Homo sapiens: one gene and its partners. The protein of the gene in region 1 interacts with the protein of each later gene in a biochemical or structural test. Each region holds a gene or a part of one and is shown in the gene's direction. Other genes may lie near its edges.

Region 1 (3,997 bases):
CTGTGGCCCAGGCTGGAGTGCAATGATGCAATCTCGGCTCACTGCAACCTCCTCCACCTCCCGCGTTCAAGTGATTCTCCCTGCCTCAGCCTCCTGAGTAGCTGGGATTACAGGTGCCTGTCACCACGACCAGCTAAGCAGTATTTGTCTGTCTATATCTGCTCATTTCACTTAGGATAATGCCCTCTAGGTTCATCAATGTTACTGCAAATGACAGAATTTCCTTCTTTTTCAAGGCTGAGTAATACTCCATTGTGTATATATATATATACACATTTTCTTTATCTACTCATCCATCAGTGGAAACAGGTTGTTTTCATATCTCGGCTATTGTCAATATAGCTACAATGAACATGGGAATGCAGGTGTCTCTTCAAGATCCTGATTTCATTTCCTTTGGAAATACACTCAGAAATGAGATTGCTAGCACAGAAACAGGAAATAAATGGTATTTTTCATGGCACTTTATGATCTCCCATAATTCACTGAGTATTTCCTATGTGACAGTCACTGTTCTGAGAGATTTACAAGAATTAACTCATTTATTCTTCATAAAAGCATGGGGTAGCTTATCAGCATCCTTATTTTATAAATGAGGAAACTGAAGTATAAAGAGGTAAAGTAACTTGTCCAAGAACATAGAGCAGGGAAGTGGTGCAGCTTGGATTATGAACCCAAGATGTTTTGTTCCTGGGGCTGCTGTCATCTTAATATTTTAAATAGAGAAAAGTAATATGTTCTAAATAAACTTATAGAAAGCCTTCAGGGCCAGCTTATCCCCAAAGTTATTTTTTTTATAAGCCAGATCACCCAACCCTAATTTCTGCATAAAGTGAAATATTGTTTGCTAAATCACTACTACTGGGGGCTACAGCTAGCTTACCTAAGCACCTTCTATATTCTTTCACGTTTAGAAATATGGATATACCCTCCTATGCTCCTCTTTTCATTCTCAAAGCCACCCTGTTCCTGGAATGTGAGATCTCCTAATTGTTGACTGGAGAATCAAATGCTACCTTTGCAACAGCTTATCGGAAGCAAACAAGCTGAGGGGAATTGAGCAAGAATTTCTGGGATACCAACAGCATAGGAGGAACAAAGGACGTAGAGGGAGGGTTGACTGTCTACACAGGACAAAGCCAATGATTAACCAAACCTCTTGCAGATTTAAATAGGATGGGAACTAGGAGTGGCAGCAATCCTTTCTTTCAGCTGGAGTGCTCCTCAGGAGCCAGCCCCACCCTTAGAAAAGATGTTTTCCATGAGGATCGTCTGCCTGGTCCTAAGTGTGGTGGGCACAGCATGGGTATGGCCCTTTTCATTTTTTCTTCTTGCTTTCTCTCTGGTGTTTATTCCACAAAGAGCCTGGAGGTCAGAGTCTACCTGCTCTATGTCCTGACACACTCTTAGCTTTATGACCCCAGGCCTGGGAGGAAATTTCCTGGGTGGGCTTGACACCTCAAGAATACAGGGTAATATGACACCAAGAGGAAGATCTTAGATGGATGAGAGTGTACAAACTCACAAGGGAAACTTTAGCATCTGTCATTCAGTCTTACCACATTTTGTTTTGTTTTGTTTTAAAAAGGGCAAGAATTATTTGCCATCCTTGTACCTATAAAGCCTTGGTGCATTATAATGCTAGTTAATGGAATAAAACATTTTATGGTAAGATTTGTTTTCTTTAGTTATTAATTTCTTGCTACTTGTCCATAATAAGCAGAACTTTTAGTGTTAGTACAGTTTTGCTGAAAGGTTATTGTTGTGTTTGTCAAGACAGAAGAAAAAGCAAACGAATTATCTTTGGAAATATCTTTGCAGTATCAGAAGAGATTAGTTAGTAAGGCAATACGCTTTTCCGCAGTAATGGTATTCTTTTAAATTATGAATCCATCTCTAAAGGTTACATAGAAACTTGAAGGAGAGAGGAACATTCAGTTAAGATAGTCTAGGTTTTTCTACTGAAGCAGCAATTACAGGAGAAAGAGCTCTACAGTAGTTTTCAACTTTCTGTCTGCAGTCATTAGTAAAAATGAAAAGGTAAAATTTAACTGATTTTATAGATTCAAATAATTTTCCTTTTAGGATGGATTCTTTAAAACTCCTAATATTTATCAAATGCTTATTTAAGTGTCACACACAGTTAAGAAATTTGTACACCTTGTCTCCTTTAATTCTCATAACAACTCCATAAAATGGGTCCTAGGATTTCCATTTGAAGATAAGAAACCTGAAGCTTGCCGAAGCCCTGTGTCTGCTCTCCTTAATCTCTGTGAGAGTGCCATCTCTTCCTGGGGACTTGTAGGCATGCCACTGTCTCCTCTTCTGGCTAACATTGCTGTTGCTCTCTTTTGTGTATGTGAATGAATCTTTAAAGACTGCAGATAGTGGTGAAGGTGACTTTCTAGCTGAAGGAGGAGGCGTGCGTGGCCCAAGGGTTGTGGAAAGACATCAATCTGCCTGCAAAGATTCAGACTGGCCCTTCTGCTCTGATGAAGACTGGGTAAGCAGTCAGCGGGGGAAGCAGGAGATTCCTTCCCTCTGATGCTAGAGGGGCTCACAGGCTGACCTGATTGGTCCCAGAAACTTTTTTAAATAGAAAATAATTGAATAGTTACCTACATAGCAAATAAAGAAAAGGAACCTACTCCCAAGAGCACTGTTTATTTACCTCCCCAACTCTGGATCATTAGTGGGTGAACAGACAGGATTTCAGTTGCATGCTCAGGCAAAACCAGGCTCCTGAGTATTGTGGCCTCAATTTCCTGGCACCTAATTTATGGCTAAGTGGACCCTCATTCCAGAGTTTCTCTGCGACCTCTAACTAGTCCTCTTACCTACTTTTAAGCCAACTTATCTGGAAGAGATAGGGTAGGAAGAAATGGGGGCTGCATGGAAACATGCAAAATTATTCTGAATCTGAGAGATAGATCCTTACTGTAATTTTCTCCCTTCACTTTCAGAACTACAAATGCCCTTCTGGCTGCAGGATGAAAGGGTTGATTGATGAAGTCAATCAAGATTTTACAAACAGAATAAATAAGCTCAAAAATTCACTATTTGAATATCAGAAGAACAATAAGGATTCTCATTCGTTGACCACTAATATAATGGAAATTTTGAGAGGCGATTTTTCCTCAGCCAATAGTAAGTATTACATATTTACTGCTTTGACTTTATAACAGAAACAACAAAAATCCTAAATAAATATGATATCCGCTTATATCTATGACAATTTCATCCCAAAGTACTTAGTGTAGAAACACATACCTTCATAATATCCCTGAAAATTTTAAGAGGGAGCTTTTGTTTTCGTTATTTTTTCAAAGTAAAAGATGTTAACTGAGATTGTTTAAGGTCACAAAATAAGTCAGAATTTTGGATTAAAAACAAGAATTTAAATGTGTTCTTTTCAACAGTATATACTGAAAGTAGGATGGGTCAGACTCTTTGAGTTGATATTTTTGTTTCTGCTTTGTAAAGGTGAAAACTGAGAGGTCAAGGAACTTGTTCAAAGACACAGAGCTGGGAATTCAACTCCCAGACTCCACTGAGCTGATTAGGTAGATTTTTAAATTTAAAATATAGGGTCAAGCTACGTCATTCTCACAGTCTACTCATTAGGGTTAGGAAACATTGCATTCACTCTGGGCATGGACAGCGAGTCTAGGGAGTCCTCAGTTTCTCAAGTTTTGCTTTGCCTTTTTACACCTTCACAAACACTTGACATTTAAAATCAGTGATGCAACACTAGCTGGCAAGTGAGTGATCCTGTTGACCCAAAACAGCTTAGGAACCATTTCAAATCTATAGATTAAAAAGAAAAGCTCATCAGTAAGAAAATCCAATATGTTCAAGTCCCTTGATTAAGGATGTTATAAAATAATTGAAATGCAATCAAACCAACTATTTTAACTCCAAATTACACCTTTAAAATTCCAAAGAAAGTTCTTCTTCTATATTTCTTTGGGATTACTAATTGCTATTAGGACATCTT
Region 2 (3,500 bases), on another chromosome or scaffold:
GCCTCCACTGCCTGGAACTCAGGCCGTGCAGCAGGTGCTGGGGAGAGGCGGGAGATCAGCAGTTCAGCTCTGGACCTGTTGAGCTTGAAGGGCTTGGGTGCTTTAGGCGGAAATATCCAAAGAACAGTTGGGAGTGGCTCTCCCCGCTTCCACAAGAGAGATCTGAATGGGAGACAGGGGTTTGGGGAAAGTGGATGAGGTCCCGGGACCTGTGAAATAAGAGGCCCAGGATAGAGCCCTAGGGAGCAAAAGCATTTAGGTGACTCCTACAGGAGGTAAGTCTGAGAAGGAGACAGAGGAGTGTCCAGAGAGGGAGGAGGGAACCCAGGGGGTCTGATGGCCCGGGACTCAAGGAAGAGCATGCGTTAAAGAGCATGCACAGGAGGAAGTGGGCGCTGCAGCTCCTGCTGCTGCTGCAAGATACAATTAGGTGGGGCTGGAGAAATATTCATGGGCTTTAGCAAGAAGAGGGTGCCAGGCATGGTGGCTCATACCTGTAATCCCAGCTACTTGGGAAATTGAAGCAGGAGAATCTCTTGAACCCGGGAAGTGGAGGTTGCACTGAGCTGAGCTTGCGCCACTACTGCACTCCAGCCTGGGTGACAGAGCAAGACTCCATCTCAACAAAATAAAAAAAAAAATAGAGAAAGAAAGGAAGAAAGAAAAAAGAAGGGGAGGTTATTGGTGACAGTGACATAAATTGATTCAGGCCAAGATAGGGTCAGAAGCCAGAATGCAATGGGGTAAGGTATGAATGGAGATGAAAAATTGGATGCAGCTAATGTAGACAGCTCTTTCAACAGGTTTGTGGTAAAAAGGAATTTGAGGAATAGAAAGGAAAAAAAAAAACATGTTTGACTATAAGAGGAAAAAGAGAAAAGGTGATCACAGAAAAGAGATGAGGGTCAAGGGAAGATTATTTCAATGTGGAAGAACATGTAGTAGGTTGAAAATGATGTTGTGGGGAAATGGGGGGATGAGCCAGCAGAGAGTCCCTGTGATGCCTCAGGGGGTGGGAGGGTGACTGGCCCAGTGTCAGGGTGAAGGAAGGAAACCTCTTCCAGGGTCAAATGGGGAAAGGGAAAAGAAAGTTGGTGTGGGATTATAGCATAACAGTGGGCTGCCTCTCTTCCTGAAGTAAGAGATTACGTCACCTGCTGAAGGAAGTGTGGGGGGTCTGGGAGTTTGATGGAATGGAGAAGGCTAGAAATAGATGCTAGATGGCCAGGCACGGTGGCTCACACCTGGAATCCCAGCACTTTGGGAGGCCGAGGCAGGAGGATCACTGGAGCCTAGGAGTTTGACACCAGCCTGGCCAACATAGGGAGATCTCGTCTCCATAAAAATTTTTAAAAATTAGCTGGGCATGGTGGCTATAGTCTCAACTGCTTGGGAAGCTGAGGTGGGAGGATTGCTTTAGTCCAGAAGGTTGAGGCTGCAGTAAGCCATGGTTGCACCACTGCACTTCAGCCTGAATGACAGTGCAAGACTGTCTTAAAAATAAAAAAATTTTAAAAGGGGCTTGGGCACGGTGGCTCACACCTGTAATCCCAGCACTTTGGGAGCCCAAGGTGGGCAGATCACTTGAGGTCAGGAGTTCGAGATCAGCCTGGCCAATGTGGTGAAACCCCGTCTCTACTGAAAATACAAAAATTAGCCGGGCATGGTGGTAGGCGCCTGTAATCCCAGCTACTGAAGAGGCTGAGGCACAAGAATCACTTTAACGGGGGAGGCAGAGGTTGCAGTGAGCCGAGATCGCACCACTGCACTCCAGCCAGGACAACAGAGCGAGACTCCATCTCAAAAAAAAAAAAATTTAGAAAAGGGAATAATGATGCTTAATTTTCAGGATATATTTTCCTCAATAGACAGTGAGAGTTGTCACTGTTTTTATAACAATCCTACTTGGCAGGTCCCTCTCCCACCTGATTGTTAACTCCTGGAGGGTAGGGCAGTGCCTCCTTCACCCACACTTTGCACCCCTTTCCTAGTCTCCTGGGATGTTCCCAGAGAAGCTCAGGAAAGTTTTACAGTCATCTAGGGAGGCTGAATAACAATCAGCCACTTCCTTTCTGTTACTCCTTCCAGACATTGCAGTGGCTGCCCCCTACGGGGGTCCCAGTGGCCGGGGCCAAGTGCTGGTGTTCCTGGGTCAGAGTGAGGGGCTGAGGTCACGTCCCTCCCAGGTCCTGGACAGCCCCTTCCCCACAGGCTCTGCCTTTGGCTTCTCCCTTCGAGGTGCCGTAGACATCGATGACAACGGATACCCAGGTGCCCTGGACTGCCTCCAGCTAGAAATGCCCAAGAAAGGCCCTTGGACATTCGCTGGAAGTGCCAAGAGACACGGCCAGGGGCTCATGCCTGGCCTGGTGTCCCACTATGGACTGCCAGAGGGGCTGGGTGAAACCTCCAGTGGGGGAGGTGGTGTGGGGAACCCCTGGGAAGATGAGATGAGGATCCCATGCCCTAATCGCCAATTCTGACCCATTCCTCGATGTCTATAGACCTGATCGTGGGAGCTTACGGGGCCAACCAGGTGGCTGTGTACAGGTGAGCACTGGCTCCAGGGGCGGGATGGGGAAGGTCCTGTGCCATCAAGAGGAGGCCAGGCCAGGAGGAGCCACAATGGCAAGCCTACCCCATCACCCTATCCCATCAGAGCTCAGCCAGTGGTGAAGGCCTCTGTCCAGCTACTGGTGCAAGATTCACTGAATCCTGCTGTGAAGAGCTGTGTCCTACCTCAGACCAAGACACCCGTGAGCTGGTGAGGAGGCAGAGGGCATGGGCCTTAAAGGATCTGGGACCTCAGAAAGGCTCCAACCCCTGAGCCCCACTTACGTCTTTGCAGCTTCAACATCCAGATGTGTGTTGGAGCCACTGGGCACAACATTCCTCAGAAGCTATGTGAGTGGCATGAAGGGGGCAGGAGGGAGGTGGGCTTGGACTCCCCCGGAGGCTGGCCAGGGAGGTCCTGACTCTTCTGCTTGCCCTGCCAGCCCTAAATGCCGAGCTGCAGCTGGACCGGCAGAAGCCCCGCCAGGGCCGGCGGGTGCTGCTGCTGGGCTCTCAACAGGCAGGCACCACCCTGAACCTGGATCTGGGCGGAAAGCACAGCCCCATCTGCCACACCACCATGGCCTTCCTTCGAGTACGCCCAGGCAGGGGATTGGCAGGGCTGGGAGAGTAGAACTTACCCACTGGACTTGTTCATCTAGCCCTGGGGCACTGAGCTGGGTGCTGTGAGTCCGGGGGTGGTCAGGACACGGTGCCTACTGGCCAGGAGAAGGTGGGATGTGTATGGTAGCAAGATGGCCTGACTCTTGCCCCTGTCCTAGGATGAGGCAGACTTCCGGGACAAGCTGAGCCCCATTGTGCTCAGCCTCAATGTGTCCCTACCGCCCACGGAGGCTGGAATGGCCCCTGCTGTCGTGCTGCATGGAGACACCCATGTGCAGGAGCAGGTAGGGACAGGCAGGGACAGGCCAGGGAGGTGCAGGACC
Region 3 (3,500 bases), on another chromosome or scaffold:
AACTCTGGGAAGAAGTTGGAGTGCAGGAGAGGTGATTTTTCACACTCTACTTTATCATATATTTATTATTTGAACCTTTTCAGTGAACTGGTATTCACCTTATCACTTAGGTGATACATTTTTAAAAGGCAGAAACCATTTTAAAAAATGACACATACTGGTGATTTTGAATTCTCATACTGCCTTAAAAAATATTGAATGGTAGTTATCTACTGCTTTTTTTTCCTTTTTCTTTGTCTGTTCTTGAAACTATTTTGATCCCATCTGTTCTAGAGAGGAGGGGAAGGAACTGGTTACTTCGTGGACTTCTCTGTGCGGAACTGCCCCAGACACCATTTCCCCAGACACCCCAATGTGAGTATAAGAAATGTCTGTGATCGTTGACTAGAGTCACAGAGAAAAAAGAAAGAGAAGAAGGAGAAGGAGAAGGAGAAGGAGAGGAAGGAGAAGAAGGAGAAGAGGAATGAGAAGGAGAAAATGAGGAGGAGGAGAAGGAGGAAGAAATGTCTGTGAAATACAAAGTATCATCTGGGAAGCACTTAGTACCTGCCAGGCACTCTTCTAAGTGATTTACACATCAGATAACTTATTGTTTTGTTTTGTTTTTGAGATGGAGTTTCGCTCTTGTTGCCCAGGTTGGAGTGCAATGGCACAGTGTCGGCTCACTGCAACCTCCGCCTCCCGGGTTCAGGCGATTCTCCTGCCTCAGCCTCCGGAGTAACTGGGATTACAGGCATGCACCACCACGCCCAGCTAATTTTTGTATTTTTAGTAGAGATGGGGTTTCACCATGTTGATCAGGTTGGTCTCAAACTCCTTATCTCAGGTGTCCACCCACTTCGGCTGGGATTACAAATCAAAGTGCTGGGGTTACAGGCGCAAGCCACCATGCCCAGCCTATGATAACTTATTAACCCTCACACTACCATATGAGATAGATACCATTTTTAATCCCAAATTAGCAGATAGGGGAACTGAGGCACAGAGAACATAAGCGAACCATAAGAACATGATTTTATAATATACATGATATATACCTAAACTTAAAACTAAGTTTCTAACTGATTAGGATTAAAGGCTTAGTTAGAACTATAGCAGTTCGTACTAAGACCCTACGCCAAGTGGTTTTATTAATTCCACATCATCACACTCACAGGAATCCCACTTGACAAATGAGGAGGTAACTGAAAATCAGCAAAGGAAAGGTCTTGCCGATGTTCACAACCAAGCTGAGATTAAAACTTAGTTATTCTCATACAAAGTCCAGTGGGATTTTTCCTCTAATCATTTACAAATAGATTCCCATGTACCTGCCAGAAGACATTATTAATACCACCTGGCATTTGCATGGTGACCTACAGTTAAAGAAACACCTCCACATCTGTTATTGCCAGGAGAGCCTCATGAAAATCCTGCTGACAAGGAAAAGCAAGTATCTGCCTACATTTCCTGTGACAAGGGGACCTGAAATTAAAACCACTTACCTAAAGGCACTTAGCTAGAGAGTGTTAGGAAATGGAATTTTAATTATGATGCCAAGTCCAGGATTTTTCTGAGGTTTAACAACACATTCTCCCTGGTCAAAAGGGAGAAACCATCCATTAGTACCTTTGTTAGCTCTTCTAATGTCCACACTGAACCAGGTCTAGAAACCTTCTTAGCGCCCACCAGAAAAGACACCTCCCTCCCCTACTCCTATGGCCAACAAACCCTTCATGATCTTGGTGTGGATAATGTAAACCCAGAGTTGAAGCACCAGAGCTGAAGAGGAGGCTCAGGGGTAAGTGTTTTACAGCATCCTCTTGTTTAATTAATCCCTCCCACAACCTGTGAGTACATAGTATTATCCCCATTTTACAATGGCTGACTTTCAGAAATCTTTTGTAACTTTCCCAAACTCAGACAACTAGGAAATGGAGAAGCCAGGATTAACATAGGTCTCTCTGATTCCCAAACTGTACTCAGAACCTCAATGCTTAGCAATTTCTTCTAGCAGACAGCCGTCCTCTTGTCCTAGTCGATCTTTCACAGGTGGGTTTAGGAGCATCTGGAGCACAGGAGTGGCAGCCAGTTGTAGCCCTGGCACTTGGGTGGAGTCAGCAGACACTTGCCTTGACAATGTCCATGAAAACCCATCTTTATGCTATACAGATGCCCTCCTGTCCAACACTTTCCTCCAAGGGACCAGCTGAAGTTGTAAAAATCCCTCTTTGACACCATTCCTCATTGTCCTAGGCACAGGCAACTGAGGTCTCCAGTGCAGAAGGGTTGGCCTAAAGGCAAGGCAGCAATGATGTGGTTTTCCTCATCATTTCCATCACCCATGGGGAAGCCCAGTGCTGGTGCCTGCTCATGAAAAAAACCACAGCAACTTTAGTGATACCCTTCACCACCTGCACTTTCCCCAAAGTGTTAACAAGGAAAGATTGCTGAACGACTGGTGGGAATATCTGATCATATTACCCTGATTTTTCTAAAGCACTTCTTCCTTTTCTGAATGTCTGGAAGCTAACTCTGGCTGGTCATCTTCACACCACCTGGACACACACACTAACAGCTCCTCATTCCTTTGTAGGTCTTTGGATTCTGCAGAGCAGATTTGTTCTATGATGTAGAAGCCTTGGACTTGGAAAGCCCGAAAAACCTTGTCATAAACTGTGAAGTCTTCGACCCTCAGGTGGGTTGTCTAAGCAGACTTTGTCATGGCAGTGCCAGATTAAGTGACATACGTACACAAATAGTGTTGTTGCTTCCTAAAGCTCTATGAGTGGGTGTGTGTGTGTGTGTGTGTGTGTGAGAGAGAGAGAGAGAGAGAGAGACAGAGACAGAGACAGAGAGAGGGAGACAGGGAGAGAGAGAAAGAGAGAGACAGACAGACATGCAAGAAAAAAGATACAGAGAGTATCCCACAACTGGGGAAAGGAGTGCAATTGCCAGATTACACAAAAAGTATGAAAACTTTTCCAAGAATTGAAGAGGGGTAACAATTGGCAGAAAATTAAAATCATGTCCAATTCAACCAAACTTGAAGGAATTTGAAAATGCTCTTTGTAGTCGGGACTCTAGTGCTGAGACTTAGTCATTCCTAAGCTTATATTATTGGGCATAGAATCTAAGAGGAATATATCAGCCTCAAATTTATTATGTAAATGTATATAAAATAAGATGCAAAACCATATTTTGCATCTGTCTCAGAAATCTTTGGTCTATTTTTTACATGAGTACAAAGATTTGCTTCACGAAATTTTTCATATCAGAAACAAAACTTAAAATAATCCAAACATCCAATCCCAAGTTAAAAAAAAGAAAAAGGAACAAAGGGCAGGATTGTCACCATGAACATGGCTCTGTCTTTTTTTTTTTTTTTTTTTTTGAGAAGGAGTTTTGCTCTTATTGCCCAGGCTGGAATACAATGGTGCCATCTCGGCTCACCACAACCTCTGCCTCCTGGGTTCAAGCGATTCTCCTGCCTCAGCCTCCTGAGTAGCTAGGATTACAGG
Region 4 (3,500 bases), on another chromosome or scaffold:
ATTTCTCTTCTGGAGTTTATATCCTAGAAGCTCTCCAATCGAAGCCCTCTGCAGGTATCCTCAGGTCCTGGAGAAACACAGCAGGAAGGCTTGTTGGCTTCGGAAAGGGAGGGCTATGGTTTAAAGCCAGTAAGATGTGGGTTTGATTCTTGACTTTGTCTCCTGTAGGCTGTGTGGCCTTAAATAAGTTACCTAATCTCTTGAGTCCTCAGTTTCCTCATTTGTAAGGCAGAGGAAACAATGCCTATGATTATGCTGATTAAATGAAACAGAGGCACAAAATAAGTGTTTAATGAATGACAACTACTATTGTCATTATTCTTCCTATCCATGCTATCTGCCATGTATTGGAGGCAAAAGCTGTTACTACTTCATGCATATGCGCTATGCAGGCTTCCAGAATGAAACTGATGGGGTCCCTTTCCCCCACATATGTGAGAGGGGGTCCCTCTTATTTCAACTCGTTCCTCATTGCTGGTTTGGCATATCTCAGCTACTCTAACCCGGCAAGAATCCACAGAAGAAGCCAAGAAGGAAAAAGGCTTATACATTTGCTTTACCCATAAGAAAACCTCAAGCCCTGTATCTGAAAAAAGAGGAAGATAAAAGGATCTATAAGACTTCAAGTTCCATGAGAAGAGGGACATGTCTATTTTGTTCAATACTCTATGCCCACTGCCTGGCACATAGGCAGCAAAACAAATATCTGTGGAATGCTATGTAAAGGCATCTATAGATGATGTGCCTCCCTTTAAGAAACCCAATATTTGAATATTTGCACTCATTCATACAAGATCCTCAAGTGCTCCGTTTGGATAATCTGGAGGGTATGAAAACATAGCCAAGATCATGAATTCTTTGGGCATTTGGGCCGCTGCACTGTTGCACCATTTAGACCTGTGATCTGAGAGTGTGAAAAACTCAAGGGATCCTCTGTAAAGTGTCTGCCTTTTTTTCCCTCCTGGGAGGAGCCGTTAGAAGGGCAACATTCTCCTTTCTCCCCCTTGGACGTGTGGGTGTTGGGGCAAGGGTGAGGAGTGACAGAGGTCTCCTGGGAAGACCATAAGATGGGGCAAGCACACCACAGTGAGGAGGGGGAGTCTGGCTATGACTTTAGAATTTCCTGATCGAAATTTCTCCTCTAAAGCTCCCCACCCTACTTGGGATCTGAGGTTATCATCCCCTCCCAGTCCCAAGAACCCTTCTTCCCTTGTTGGCAGAAATCTCCAGGAAGCATGCCCACAGGAACCACAACTCATGAATCAGAAGACAGATAATTAACCGAGGGAGTGACTGAGCAGCTTCAGGGATGAACCGCTTCGTTTTACCCAGCCCTCTCTGCTGCCCACAGAGTGGGCTGCTCCACCCCATCGCCTCTGCTCCCTCTTCCTGAACCTTGGCCCTTCCTGAGTGGGACCTTCATTGTGCCTGATGGAGCTCAGGCCACTAGTGGAAATGAAGGTGGGAGCAGGGAAATGACTCTGTTTAGGGGAACTGCCTATTCCCCGTGTGGGAACTGCTGGCATTTATTGAAACGTGAGACTCTCCAGCAAAAAAGTGATAGCATCTGCCTTTCTGTCCACACACACAGTCTCACCAAAAACACTCTTTTTTTTTTTTTGTTAGATAATTCAGGTATAATTTATGTACAGTAAAATTCACCCTTTTTAGTGCATACAGTTCTATGAATTTTGACAAATGCATATAGTCAAGTAACCATTGCCATCATCAAGATACAGAATTTTTCCATCATCCCCTAAAATTCCCCCAAGCTCTTTTTTTCCCTTCTTTTTCTTTCTAGAGGCAGGGTCTCACCATATTGCCCAGGCTGGTCTCGAACTTCTGAGCTCAGGCAATCTGCCCACCTCGGCCTCCCAAAGTGTTGGGATTACAGGCGTGAGCTACTGTGCCAGGTGCCCCCCCAGCTCTTTTGTAATCGATACCCTACCCTCAACCCTCGTCGGTTGCAACTGCTGATCTATTTCCTGTCCCTGCAGTTCTATGTTTTACAAAATGTCATATAAATGAAAGCATGCAGTGTATAGACTTTCAGTCTGGCTTCTTTCACTTAGCACAATACATTTGGGGTTAATCTATGATGCTGCATCTATCAGTAACTCTAAGACATTGTCTGAGGCCACTCCGTCATCCTCCGTGTTGGAACAGTTACCCTGAAAGCAGTGGGACTGGATCCGTTAAACTTTGGAGGTGCTCCCCAGCTTTCAGCTTCTAAATTTTATAATTGGATAGATGTATTTAGCTATATATAAGTCATTAGATTTTCCATGTGCTAAGTAGTTAAAGACTTCAGGATACTAGAGAGGATTCTGTAGCAACCAACACTTATTATTCTTGCTCATAGGAGTAACAGATATTTTGTGGCCAAATATTGTATGTCATGATGCTTGGAGTCAGAAGTTGTTAAGTAAACCTGGGGGCTATTCTACCTTTTTACATTTTTGGTAGCATCTCTGAAAAAACAACCCACTTGACTTTTTTTTTTTCCTTTTTTTTGGGAGGGTGGGTGGGTGGGTGGCTTTTTGGCCAAAACCAGAAAGCTTGCTAGACAAATTCTAACACTAGATCTAACACTAGATGTCTTATTTCTGTTTTTCTGTCATGTTCCCATGAAAAGACTATTTACTTACCCCCCTCTCTCGGTTTTATAGTTGAGTTAGTTCAATTTCTTAGTTCAGTTAGTGAAGATGTTTAAATATTCAAGGAGAGAAAGAAAAAGAACAAGGTGATACACATTTTAAAAAAGTCAAAATAACAAATATTGTTATTTCTTGGCTGGGCGCGGTGGCTCATGCCTGTAATCCCAGCACTTTGGGAGGCCGAGGCGGGCGGATCACCTGAGGTCAGGAGTTCAAGACCAGCCTGACCAACATGGAGAAACCCTGTCTCTACTAAAAATACAAAATCAGCTGGGCATGGTGGCATGCGTCTGTAATCCCAGCTACTCGGGAGGCTGAGGCAGGAGAATCGCTTGAACCCAGGAGGCAGAGGTTGCAGTGAGCCGAGATTGTGCCATTGCACTCCAGCCTGAGCAACAAGAGCAAAACTCTGTCTCAAAAAACAGAACAAAACAAAACAAATATTGTTATTTCTCAAATAGGTTCATCCACATAGGATCATTGTCAGTCGTTAAAATTGCTGGTTCCCTTCTAATTCTATTCCCCTATAATGTTCATATTAATCAGGTGGTGTGTTCTGTTTAGACATTTCCCCTCGCATTTATGTTTATTTGTGTGTGTGTGTGTATTCCTTTACTTAAACCCATGATATATAGTACTTCCTTTTATATAGAAAAAAGCTCAGTGTGGAAAGAACAACGTATCTGGAATTAAGAAACCTACATTCGATTCACAGTTCTGCAGGCTTTTTCATCAGCTTGCTGGGTGACTTTGAACAAGTGACTTTACCTTTAGGCATCAGTCTCTTGGTGTCCCAGGGGCTGCAAAGTGGGACAGAGAAGATGAAGGGAAATACTTCAATTT
Region 5 (3,500 bases), on another chromosome or scaffold:
AGACCAATGGGTGAATAGCATGGGAGAGATGGAACATAAGATGAAGGTTCAATAAAGAGGGAAGGTCAGTGGGGAGATGCTAATCAGGAAGGATGTCAAAGGTCAAAGGGGACTGATCAGGATTCATTGAACAGCAGGAAGGAATAATGGAGAAGGAACTGATGGAAGAAGAGAAACCAATAAAGCACAAAAGCCAACTGAAGGATGTGAATTGAGACAGTGAATGGGGGTATAGCTGATGGAAGAGGGACTAAGGGGAAAGGATCAATGGTCCAGAGGAGTCACTAGAGGAAAAAACAGGTCCAATAGATCAGCAGGATCCATGAAGGTGGGCCTGTGTGTGAAGGGCCAATAAGAAAGGTGAACCATTGGATGAAGGGCCAGTGGGAAGGCAGAGACAATGGGGGAGGATGCGGCAAGTTAGAAAAGGACCAATGAGGGAGGTGGACCATTGGATGAAGGGCTAATAGGAAGGGAGAGCCAGTGGGGGATGGTGAGGCCAGTTAGAAAAGGACCAAGGAGGGAAGCAGACCAATAGGAAGAGAGAGCCAATGAGGGAGGGCAGGGCCAGTTAGGAAAGGACCAATGAGGAAGGTAGACCATTGGAGGAAGGGCCAATAGAAAGGGAGGATCCATGAGGGAGGGTGGGGACAGTTAGAAAAGGACCAATGATGGAGGTGGACCATTGGATGAAGAACCAATAGAAAGGAAGAACCAATGGGAGAGGGCATGGCCAGTTAGGAAAAGACCAATGGTCACAGAGTGACCAATCAAGATGAATCAATGGGCAGGAAGTGTCCAATGAAGAATGGACTACTGATCAGGAGGGGTACAGTAGAGGAGGGCGTAACAGAGGAAGAGTCCTCCAGGTCAACTGAAACTACTGAAGAAGGTGGGACCAGTGGAAGAGAGAAAAGTGGAGGAGGGACCTAAGAGAAAAGGAAAACCAATAGGAAATGAGGACTCCTGGAGAAGAGACTATTAATGAGGAAGACAGCCAATGGGGGGGAAGAATGATAGAAAGAGGGACCAATTAGGAGGCAGGGACGATGGTAATGAGATGTAAGAATGAGAGACAAACAGGAAGAGGGGTGCCAATAGAAAAGAGGGACCAATAGAGGATGGAGGACTTATAGGGGTTGGGGGGTGACTGGGGAGGATGAGGGGAGTGCAAGGCCTGGGCTGAGTCTGGCCCATCTCTCCCCTAACAGGTGATTTCCCTGACACCATCCAGTGTGCATACATCCACCTGGTGTCCCGTGAGGAGTGTGAGCATGCCTACCCTGGCCAGATCACCCAGAACATGTTGTGTGCTGGGGATGAGAAGTACGGGAAGGATTCCTGCCAGGTGAGGTGACCCGGATCTGCCACTTACACAGCCAGGGACAGGACGAAGTCACAAAAACATGGCCAGACACAGGAAGAGAGAGACACAGGCCAAAAGAGAGCTTTACAGAGACAGATAGAGACAGGCTGAGGGAGAACCCAAGCCTTGAAAAGAAGAGACTTAGTTCAACACACAGAGACACAGTCAGGGATATGCAGAGATATAAAGACACAGCCAGCAGAGACAGGAAGTGCAGAGACAAGGATGGAGGCCGCGGGATCAAGAACCAGAGAGGCCAGGAGCAGCGGCTCATGCCTGTAATCCCGGCACTTTGGGAGGCCGAAGCAGGAGGATCACCTAGGGTCAGGAGTTCGAGACCAGCCTGATCAACATGGTGAAACCCTATCTCTACTAAAAATACAAAAATTAGGATGGGCACAGTGGCTCATGCCTGTAATCCCAGCACCTTGGGAGGCCGAAGCAGGAGGATCACCTGGGGTCAGGAGTTCGAGACCAGCCTGATCAACATGGTGAAACCCTATCTCTACTAAAAATACAAAAATTAGGATGGGCACAGTGGCTCATGCCTGTAATCCCAGCACCTTGGGAGGCCGAAGCAGGAGGATCACCTGGGGTCAGGAGTTCGAGACCAGCCTGATCAACATGGTGAAACCCTATCTCTACTAAAAATACAAAAATTAGGATGGGCACAGTGGCTCATGCCTGTAATCCCAGCACCTTGGGAGGCCGAGGTGGGTGAATAACCAGGTCAAGAGATTGAGACCAGCCTGGCCGATATGGGGAAACCTCATCTCTACTAAAAATACAAAAATTAGCTGGGCGTGGTGGCAGGCGCCTGTAGTCCCAGCTACTCAGGAGGCTGTGGCAGGAGAATCACTTGAACCTGGAGGCGGAGGTTGTTGCAGTGAGTCGAGATCATGCTACTGCACTCCAGCCTGGCAACAGAGCAAGATTCCGTCTCAAAAAAAAACCAAAAAACAAAAATTACGCAAGCATGGTGGGACACACCTGTAGTCCCAGCTACTCGGGAGGCTGAGGCTGGAGAATTGCTTAAACCCAGGAGGCAGAGGCTGCAGTGAGCTGAGATCACGCCACTGCACTCCAGCCTGGGGACAGAGCCAGACTCTGTCTAAAAACAAAAAGAACCAAAGAGAAGTAGTAAGGAAGCAGATGGTGTGAGGGGACTGTCCTTCCTCAAACAGAGCCCCCACGAGTCCTGCTCAGAAACGACCAGGCTCTGGAGGAGGGAGACACTAGCTGGGGAAAGGGGACTCCCTCCCGAATACTTTAACTTGGGTTTCCTCCATTGTCATCCATCCAGGCTCTCCTCTTTATGCCAGAATGACTAATGCACTGAGGGATGTGCAGAGACCAACCAAGGGGGAGACACAGGCAGAAACGGAGACACAGGCAGAAACAGGGACAGAGACAGGGAAAGCGATACATAGCAAGTTGGACGCAAAGAAAGGGCAGGTGGGCGAGACTGTCCTCAAGACACGAGGTGGAGAGGTGTCCCTGGACAGAATAGTGCCAGGCATATCTCTCCCTGGGCCCTCCCTACCTCTCCCACCTGGGTCTTATCGTCTCCTCCTCCCCCTCCTCCCCCTCCCCATCCTCCTCCCCCTCTCCATCCTCCTCCCCCTCCCCATCCTCCTCCCCCTCCTCCTCCCCCTCCTCCTCCCCCCTCCTCTCCCTCCTCCTCCTCGTCTTCCCCCTCCTCCTCCTCCTTCTCCTCTTCCTTCTCCTCTTCCTCCTCCTCGTTCTCCTCTTCCTCCTCCTCCTCTTCCTCCTCCCCCTTTTCCTCCTCCTCCTTTTCCTCCTCTTCTCCTCCTCTTCCTTCTCCTCCTCCTCTTCCTCCTCCTCCTCTTCCTCCTCCTCCTCTTCCTCCTCCTCTTCTTCCTCCTTCTTCTCCTCTTCCTCCTCCTCTTCCTCCTCCTCCTTCTCCTCTTCCTCCTCCTCTTCCTCCTCCTCCTCCTTCTCCTCTTCCTCCTCCTCTTCCTCCTCCTCCTCTTCCTCCTCCTCTTCCTCCTCTCCTTCTCCTCTTCCTCCTCCTTCTCCTCTTCCTCCTCCTCTCTCTCCATCGGTCTCTACACCTCTGCCTCTCTCCACACCTCTCAGTCTCCATTCTTAAATTGTTTCTCTTTCTTGCTCT
Region 6 (3,980 bases), on another chromosome or scaffold:
ATAGTAATGCTGGCATTCACTTATAAGTCTCAAACAGCAAAGTAAATAAAGCTTTTAAAGCATCTTCCTTCACTTTTCAATCGTTCTCTTCCTTAGTTCTGTTCCCTTCTCATAGTTTTCCTCTCCACTCATGTCCAGTTTCAAAATATTAAATATAAAACCTTTTCAACTCTTGTTCTTAGAAGAGAATTCCTGATGTTACAAGGAAGAAAGTAAGTCTACAACTATTAAGATTTCTGAGTTTTAATTCCGTAGCCACTTTGTAATGGCAAACTAAAATTTTAGGGACTGGGATGATCATGTTGTAAACTTAAGTGGTCATAAAAACAACTTTACTAATATTATTATTCCAGTGATTCCCGTTGATGCCTCCGATGGCTCGGGAAAGTTCTTACACCGCCCCTGTAGTATATGGAAAAGGAAAACAAAACAAAACACAAAACAAAAACAACAAAACCCTCAAAGCCTGTTTAAAATGGCTCGAAGTACCCTTTTAAAGACAGAACCCCAGAGAAAAACGCTGCCAATTCGTTGCTTTATTGTTCCCTGCCTGGGGACCTCAATAGCCTTTTCCATTAACCTTCCCTTCTTACGCAACGGTTAATGACTTTGGGGGTTGTTTTGCTTTCTGTTTCTGCTGAGTCACTAAATTTTGCCTCTTTGTCCCCAGGTGCTGCTCAGCATAAAAGTTAAAAGTGCAATTCAGGAAGTACTGGGATTCTGTGTAGAGCCGAGGAAACCATTTCCCTAAGAGAAGCTCTGTTCCTTGGCTTGTCCTTCCTTCCCGGGAAGGAAGCTTCCGAGGAACGAAGGGAGAAGCTTTGTTTTGCCTGCAGAAGCAGCCCTGTGCTCGGCTGAGGGTTCTCAGCTGGCTGTGAACTGCGGAGCATTGTAGGCGCCTGGCTGGCTCAGGCCAATGCAGAAGTCTCTCCCTTCTCCAAAGACCCAAATCCCCACAGAACCAGCTTCGAGTTACTTTCCCTTCAAGGGGATTAAAATAATTGTGATTTGTGGCGCTCTCCGTTCGCGGTGGTATTTTCCTGTTGTGTTAAATGCCTCTTATTAAGTAATAGATGTGATTTATGTGAACGACGAAGGGGTGTGTGGTGGATTCGGTGATTAATCAGTGAATTCCCATCCGCTGGCATCTCTCACTGCCCCTCTTGCGTGATGTAAGATCAGACGTACCCTGCATTGAAAAGTCAAGACACACGGGCGTCTCGCTCGCGCTCACACACGCTCTGCCTCCTCTCTCCCGCACGCGCGCATCCCTCCACCTTCCACATCCTGCTCCAGGCAGGAGAAGGCTGACTGGCTGGACTCATTGAGCTGAAGAATTTCCAGTGACATTTGTAAATGACGCCGCTCGATTCCAGGCTCCAAGCGGCCCCTGCCGCCGCCGCCGCCGCCGGGCCGAAGGTGCCGCCGAGCAGTCTCCAGCGCAGGCTTCCTTACCGGGCGACCACAATGTCCGAGTTTCTCCTCGCCTTACTCACTCTCTCGGGATTATTGCCGATTGCCAGGGTGCTGACCGTGGGAGCCGACCGAGGTAAGGAGAACACCTCCCCGCTCCCCTCCCCTGACTTCCTTGGCTTTCCTGCTGGGCGATGCTTGCAGATAAGTGAGTGTGAAACTTAAGTCCTTGCAGCTCCGCTCCCCGGGACCGGGTGACCACCGTGCGCTGGCCCTGTGCGGGGGTGAGAGGTGCGGTGCGGGATTTCTGAACCAAGTGCCTGAGTCCTCGGCACCCCCACAGCTTTTCCCTTTGGCCGTTTCCCGGTCCCCATTTTGTCCCCTCCGGGAGTGTGTGCACTTGGCTGTGCGCTTCTGTCCGCGAATTCTAAGCGCTGCAGATGTTGGAATGAGAATTCGCATTTCCGAAAGACTTCCCTCCGCGATGGCCCTCAACTGCGAGCTTTTGCGAGCTCCAGGTTCTCCGCGTTAAGCGTGTCCGCCCTCAACTTAGCTCCCAGGTTAACTTCCTTACCTGCTGCATTCGAGGTCCGTGGAGCGGCGAAAGCGCCGATTCAGGCCCCTTTCGTTTCTATAGCCCCTTCCTGGGGGCAGACTGGGGTCAGAGTCCTGTCATCAGCAGAGAGGCTTTTAGGACGATTCCGGGCGCACGCACCTGCTTGAAATTGACTTTTCGATTATGAGGGTCTGTGACACAGCCCAGGTGCTCTGAGGGGCTAACCCACCCCTGGAGTGCCTCTCTCCAGTCTGGCGCTTTGCTTTTCCTTTTTCTCCAAGCAGCTGGTGAATGGTAGAAGTTTAGAAGGGAATGGATATGGGGAGCAGAGGAGAAAGGAGGTAGGAATTAGAAAAAGCCGGGATTCTATAAACTTTTCATCTGGAAAATCAAGAATCCCTGTGCGAGTTTAATAATCTTTGACAACAGATGCACTGGTGAAAAAGGGAGGAAAATACTAGATGAATATTTGGGGCACTGGCCCTGGCCTTGGAATGGTTAACTGGTTAAAGTAAAATCAGAAGTATCATAGATTTTTTTAAAATCAGAAAATGAGCTTATATTGACTGGTATAGTTCAGCTTTTTAGTTTAAATAAGAGAGAGAGAGAGAGAGAGAGAGAGAGAGAGAGAGAGAGAGAGAGAAAGAGAGAAAGAAACCCAGATCCCAATGCCAAGCAAATAGGCAGAATGTTGCATTGGGAGATTTAGTTATTGTATTTACATGAAGCAGATTATGAATTGACAAAAAATATTGCTTCATTATAGGAAAGAACAGGGGAATGAACTGCAGTGTTTCTATTCAACCTGCTGTTGGCAGCCAGATTCTAGCCTTTGTAACATACCTACACGTGTTATTTCCTCTACCAGTGGTGGGACTAATCTGAGTTCCTTTAGGAAATCTGACACTTATTGGTGATAATCTTTTAAGCATATCATTGCCACCTAACCATAGCTTCTGAACTTGCTCAACTTGCCTTGAAGTTGGTGTGGAATGGTTGGAAACTATACTGATGAAATGGAAGCACATAGCTCGCCTTGAAATGATGATGTCTTTGATCTGGAACAATCAGCTCTCAACCTTTCTTAGGAAAAATGTTTGAAGTTGGACCAGAGCAGATGAACAGAATGGAGATTTTCAGCCCAGTATGCTAGCAAAATATAATGGTACTGGCAGACTACTGCTATTGGGCTCTTCCTGATTGAGTCTCCAATCTCCAGAAATTTGACTTCATCTAAAGCTGAGTTCTCAATGCTTTTGTATACATTTATGAGGATAGAACTACTGCTACCATGATTGGAGTAAATATCTGAAGAGAATTTTGTATAGAACATAAAAAATACAGACCCCACAACTTTCTTCTGAGATAGAATATTAAATAACTAAGAGGATTATATTTGGTGCCAATTTAGTTTCATGAGGGAGAGGAACATCTAAGATAGAAGCAGAGCACATGGTAAACGATTGCTAGTTTTTTTCTAAAAAATGAAATAGTGTCGTGTTGTATCACCACGTCCACATGAAGTACTATATCAGATAGCACAAGTAAAAATAATTGTAGACCAGCACTTTGCCACTATTATATATTTAACACACTTTCAAAACTGTTAGCAAAGAGCTAAAATTCTCACAGTTACCAAAAGTGAAAAGGATGGGCCCCATTTGGAAAAAGGAATTTTAAAGAGAGAAATCTTGTTGAAAGTTAAGAAAGAAAGTGTTACTGCATTATGACAAGCTTCCCTCACTAATATGCTGAAACAGAAGATATGGGAATATAAACTCAAGAAAGAGGTTAATGAGATGTAACTTTCTGCACAGGCTTATGTCAATCGTCCTTGAATAACAGAACAGGCATGTGAATTATACAGATGCGTTTTGTAGTGCAAGAGCTAACTGCTTGACAAAAAATGAGAATTCACATTTAGGTTCTACGTGTACTTATTGTGTAATAGGTAGCTTCTCAAACTGTATGAACTATATCAGAAGTGTTTGTATTACCTTCTAGCTGTGTT
Region 7 (3,500 bases), on another chromosome or scaffold:
CCAGTGAGTTCAGGGTAGTGATTGTAATGCCTGTGTTGCCACTTTACATGATTTGAAAGAAACTCTAGTTCCTAACAAGCTCTGATCTGGCCACAGGCTGAGCTCTGACCCTAGTCATAGACCAAGCCCTGATCCTAATCATGGACTGAGCCCTGACTACAGTCATAAACTTGGCCCTGATCCTGATCCTGGACTGAGCCCTGATCCTGATCATGGGTTGAACCCTGACACTGGTCACAGACCAAGCCCTGATCCTGATCGTGGACTGAGCCCTGACCCTAGTCATAAACTTAGCCCTGATCCTGATCATGGACTGAGCCCTGCCCCTAGTCATAGACTGAGCCCTGATTCTGATCATGGACTGAGTCCTGACCCTAGTCATAGACTGTGCCCTGATTTTGATCATGAACTCACCCCTGGCCATCAGAGGCATATCTCACTACTCTTTGGAACAAACTTCACTCACTTCCTCTGACTGTCAGGACTAGCACACCAAGAGTGTAGCCTTTACATGTGACGACTGTCATGGCCTGCCACTAAGGCAAAAGGATTCATCTCTAGGGGCCATGCAGGAGTGGTGTGGGGGACAGAGCACTAGCCCCAAGGTATGTCACCAGCCTGGGCTCTGGGCTCAGGAGGTTACTACTCCACCTCTTCAGTACACCTCAGACTCCAGAGGGTGCCAGAAAAGAGCTTCCCTCTTCAGTCCAGAGTCTCCAGCCAGGGCCCTGGGACCAGACCTTCGGGTTGAGTGTGAGATCCTGGAGTTCAAGGGGATGCAAGAAATGACACCACTCCTTTGGGGGCACCTTTCCAGGAGAGGGAGAAGCAGCTCATTGCTGTCCTCCATTTCTCTCCCTGACCCCAACCCTCCGCCCCCTCCCTCATTTCCCCAGGAAGCACACAAACCACCTGATCTCTTTGACCCCTTCAAGGTTGACCTGGCTGGGCCCCCACTGCCACCAGCACTTTGCCCCCATGCAGGCTCCTCAGAAAACAAAACAGCCTTTTATTCCCAGGACCTGGGGGAGGTGGGGACAGAGCACAGCCTGAGCCCCATCTGCTCTGTTCCAGGAATGGGGTAAGGGGCCTAGCAGTCACAAGTCAGCAACCCCAGGATTCTCTCTCTGCAGGGACCTCAGTCATCTCTGTGACAGCAGTGGATGCAGACGACCCCACTGTGGGAGACCACGCCTCTGTCATGTACCAAATCCTGAAGGGGAAAGAGTATTTTGCCATCGATAATTCTGGTCTGTGTGACTAACACTCCTGGACAGTCACTGATTTGGAGGGACAAGGGGAGGTGGATACTCCAGGTGCATGTGCTAAGGGAAGTCCAGTCTGACAGGTGTCACTAGCTACTGAACCACACTGTACCATGGAAGTAGTCAGTATCATATGTAAAGACAAGGCGGCTGGTCAAGGGAGAAGGAAGCAGGCAGGTGCCCAAGAGGTGGACTCAAGTCCAGGGAACAAAATCAGGATCTTGTTACCCAAGAAGTGGCCAAGGGGCAGCAGAGGATGGTGGCTAGCCGCTCTGGGTGCAGGTTCAGACAGATCTGGTTTCCAAAGCCAGCTCTGCCACTCACCCCCTCTAGAGACCTTGGACAAATCAACTAACTTCTGCAAGCCTTAGTTCCCTCATCTAGGAGGTAGGAATGCTTATATTTATATCGTATGGTAGCTGTAAAGTTTGAGTTAGATCATGTATAAAGGCAGCAAGGCCCATAGTAATTGCTTATGTGATGACTTAACAAAAAATATAAGGACTGACTCTTGGGAGCAAGAAAGAAGTCCAGTGGAACTGTCTTTCAGAGAGATGGCAAATACATAGCACAGATGCCACTACTATGCTACAGTGCACCAAGGCAGACATCACTAATCTATCACAGCACTCTTTCCATCTGAGCCTAGATATGGCCTCATGGTCTTTGTCAACACAATATTTCAGGTGGCGAGGACCAATACCGAACCCAACTATTGGGCCAGCTTTGGCCTCACAGTATAGGCTATGGAGGTAGTGGGTTGTAGACTCACAGTTCTCAGCCCCATTTGCACAGTGGAATCACCAGGGAAGCTCTTAAGTCAGGTTCTCTCTGGGCAGGCCCTAGGCATCGGTATTTTCTAGAAGCTGGTAACATGGTTCCTGCTGGGAATCTTTTTGCAGGACGTATTATCACAATAACGAAAAGCTTGGACCGAGAGAAGCAGGCCAGGTATGAGATCGTGGTGGAAGCGCGAGATGCCCAGGGCCTCCGGGGGGACTCGGGCACGGCCACCGTGCTGGTCACTCTGCAAGACATCAATGACAACTTCCCCTTCTTCACCCAGAGTGAGCCCCTCCTCTAGGGCCCTGGGAAGGGGGGCTGGGATACCCCAGACTCAGTGACTTGGGGCTCTGGGAAAAGAGTTACAAATCACTTTACCTCTCCCTCTATCCCAGGGTAGGCCTGATGCCCAAAGGAGTCCTTTGGGTGAAGGGAGGGGCCCTGCTTCCATCCCAATACCACATTCCCAAGGCCATCCTGCCGCCCCCTGCCACAATCCCCTCATAGGCCAGAGGGAAATCCCACTCCCTGCTGGGTGCCACCACTGTACTGTGTCCCACCATGAGACACAAGCAGTTTCACCCAGATCCCATGGGCTTGGGAAAATCAAAGCCCTGAGACTCAGGTCCCAGCTAGAAATTCCCACAAGCCAGTGAACATGGGGACAGCAAAGTTCTATATCCAGAGCCAGGGCTGGGCCCTGACCCCACCTACACACTGATCCACCCCACAGAGAATGTCTAATGAGAGCTTTTCCCATGCCTGGGGCAGATGGCTCTCCACTTGCAACTCCCAGTGCTGATACTGTCATTCAGTTGTTCAGCCACCCTAGAGACAGGCCAATTGTCCTGAAGTGGCTTCCTCGTACATGGCATAAGCTCCCTGAAGGCAGGACTTGTCTCTCTTGTCCATTGATAGGTCCCCTAGCAAAGTGCCTGGCATACAATAGGTGCTCAATAGCTATTTATTGGATGGAGGGATGGATGGATGGACATACAGATAGGGAAGACCCTCTTTACCTTGAGAATCCCAGGGGTATTATTATTTATGATTATTTTATTATGCCCATTTCTTTTATCAAAATATGTTAGAATAGCTGAAAGAGGCAATCGCCTTGTCTATCTCATTAACCCAAAGCCCTTTGGGGTGCTCTGTTTGCATCAGCCAAGTACACATTTGTCGTGCCTGAAGACACCCGTGTGGGCACCTCTGTGGGCTCTCTGTTTGTTGAGGACCCAGATGAGCCCCAGAACCGGATGACCAAGTACAGCATCTTGCGGGGCGACTACCAGGACGCTTTCACCATTGAGACAAACCCCGCCCACAACGAGGGCATCATCAAGCCCATGAAGGTTTGTAGGCCAATGGCAACAATGTCAAACGTGAGGCTTGGGGCTCTTGGCACCCACAGGTCCTGCTTGGGGATTGCTCCTGGGCCAGAGACCATCAAAG

Evidence for each region.
Region 2: the proteins of FGA (region 1) and ITGA2B interact in a test that uses a peptide from one of them, tested with the Homo sapiens proteins (one study listed by BioGRID).
Region 3: the proteins of FGA (region 1) and HRG form a complex in vitro, tested with the Homo sapiens proteins (one study listed by BioGRID).
Region 4: the proteins of FGA (region 1) and ITGB3 interact in a test that uses a peptide from one of them, tested with the Homo sapiens proteins (one study listed by BioGRID).
Region 5: of the proteins of FGA (region 1) and KLK6, one has a biochemical effect on the other in vitro, tested with the Homo sapiens proteins (one study listed by IntAct).
Region 6: the proteins of FGA (region 1) and LRP1B form a complex in vitro, tested with the Homo sapiens proteins (one study listed by BioGRID).
Region 7: the proteins of FGA (region 1) and CDH5 form a complex in vitro, tested with the Homo sapiens proteins (one study listed by BioGRID).

Annotation. Positions count from the first base shown.
Region 1 is NC_000004.12:154,587,943-154,591,939, reverse strand, and holds the start of FGA (fibrinogen alpha chain isoform alpha precursor), read left to right. Parts: upstream 1-1,197; 5' UTR 1,198-1,252; coding exon 1,253-1,306; intron 1,307-2,377; coding exon 2,378-2,503; intron 2,504-2,963; coding exon 2,964-3,147; intron 3,148-3,997. UniProt on the Homo sapiens protein: Cleaved by the protease thrombin to yield monomers which, together with fibrinogen beta (FGB) and fibrinogen gamma (FGG), polymerize to form an insoluble fibrin matrix. Fibrin has a major function in hemostasis as one of the primary components of blood clots.
Region 2 is NC_000017.11:44,379,650-44,383,149, reverse strand, and holds part of ITGA2B (integrin alpha-IIb preproprotein), read left to right. Parts: intron 1-2,088; coding exon 2,089-2,271; intron 2,272-2,504; coding exon 2,505-2,550; intron 2,551-2,659; coding exon 2,660-2,764; intron 2,765-2,848; coding exon 2,849-2,904; intron 2,905-2,996; coding exon 2,997-3,148; intron 3,149-3,335; coding exon 3,336-3,461; intron 3,462-3,500. UniProt on the Homo sapiens protein: Integrin alpha-IIb/beta-3 is a receptor for fibronectin, fibrinogen, plasminogen, prothrombin, thrombospondin and vitronectin. It recognizes the sequence R-G-D in a wide array of ligands.
Region 3 is NC_000003.12:186,672,514-186,676,013, forward strand, and holds part of HRG (histidine-rich glycoprotein precursor), read left to right. Parts: intron 1-273; coding exon 274-354; intron 355-2,575; coding exon 2,576-2,677; intron 2,678-3,500. UniProt on the Homo sapiens protein: Plasma glycoprotein that binds a number of ligands such as heme, heparin, heparan sulfate, thrombospondin, plasminogen, and divalent metal ions. Binds heparin and heparin/glycosaminoglycans in a zinc-dependent manner.
Region 4 is NC_000017.11:47,256,827-47,260,326, forward strand, and holds part of ITGB3 (integrin beta-3 precursor), read left to right. Parts: intron 1-3,500. UniProt on the Homo sapiens protein: Integrin alpha-V/beta-3 (ITGAV:ITGB3) is a receptor for cytotactin, fibronectin, laminin, matrix metalloproteinase-2, osteopontin, osteomodulin, prothrombin, thrombospondin, vitronectin and von Willebrand factor.
Region 5 is NC_000019.10:50,959,592-50,963,091, reverse strand, and holds part of KLK6 (kallikrein-6 isoform A preproprotein), read left to right. Parts: intron 1-1,211; coding exon 1,212-1,348; intron 1,349-3,500. UniProt on the Homo sapiens protein: Serine protease which exhibits a preference for Arg over Lys in the substrate P1 position and for Ser or Pro in the P2 position.
Region 6 is NC_000002.12:142,128,217-142,132,196, reverse strand, and holds the start of LRP1B (low-density lipoprotein receptor-related protein 1B precursor), read left to right. Parts: upstream 1-1,180; 5' UTR 1,181-1,356; coding exon of another isoform or gene 1,357-1,467; coding exon 1,468-1,549; intron 1,550-3,980. UniProt on the Homo sapiens protein: Potential cell surface proteins that bind and internalize ligands in the process of receptor-mediated endocytosis.
Region 7 is NC_000016.10:66,387,191-66,390,690, forward strand, and holds part of CDH5 (cadherin-5 preproprotein), read left to right. Parts: intron 1-1,133; coding exon 1,134-1,250; intron 1,251-2,167; coding exon 2,168-2,332; intron 2,333-3,185; coding exon of another isoform or gene 3,186-3,212; coding exon 3,213-3,400; intron 3,401-3,500. UniProt on the Homo sapiens protein: Cadherins are calcium-dependent cell adhesion proteins. They preferentially interact with themselves in a homophilic manner in connecting cells; cadherins may thus contribute to the sorting of heterogeneous cell types.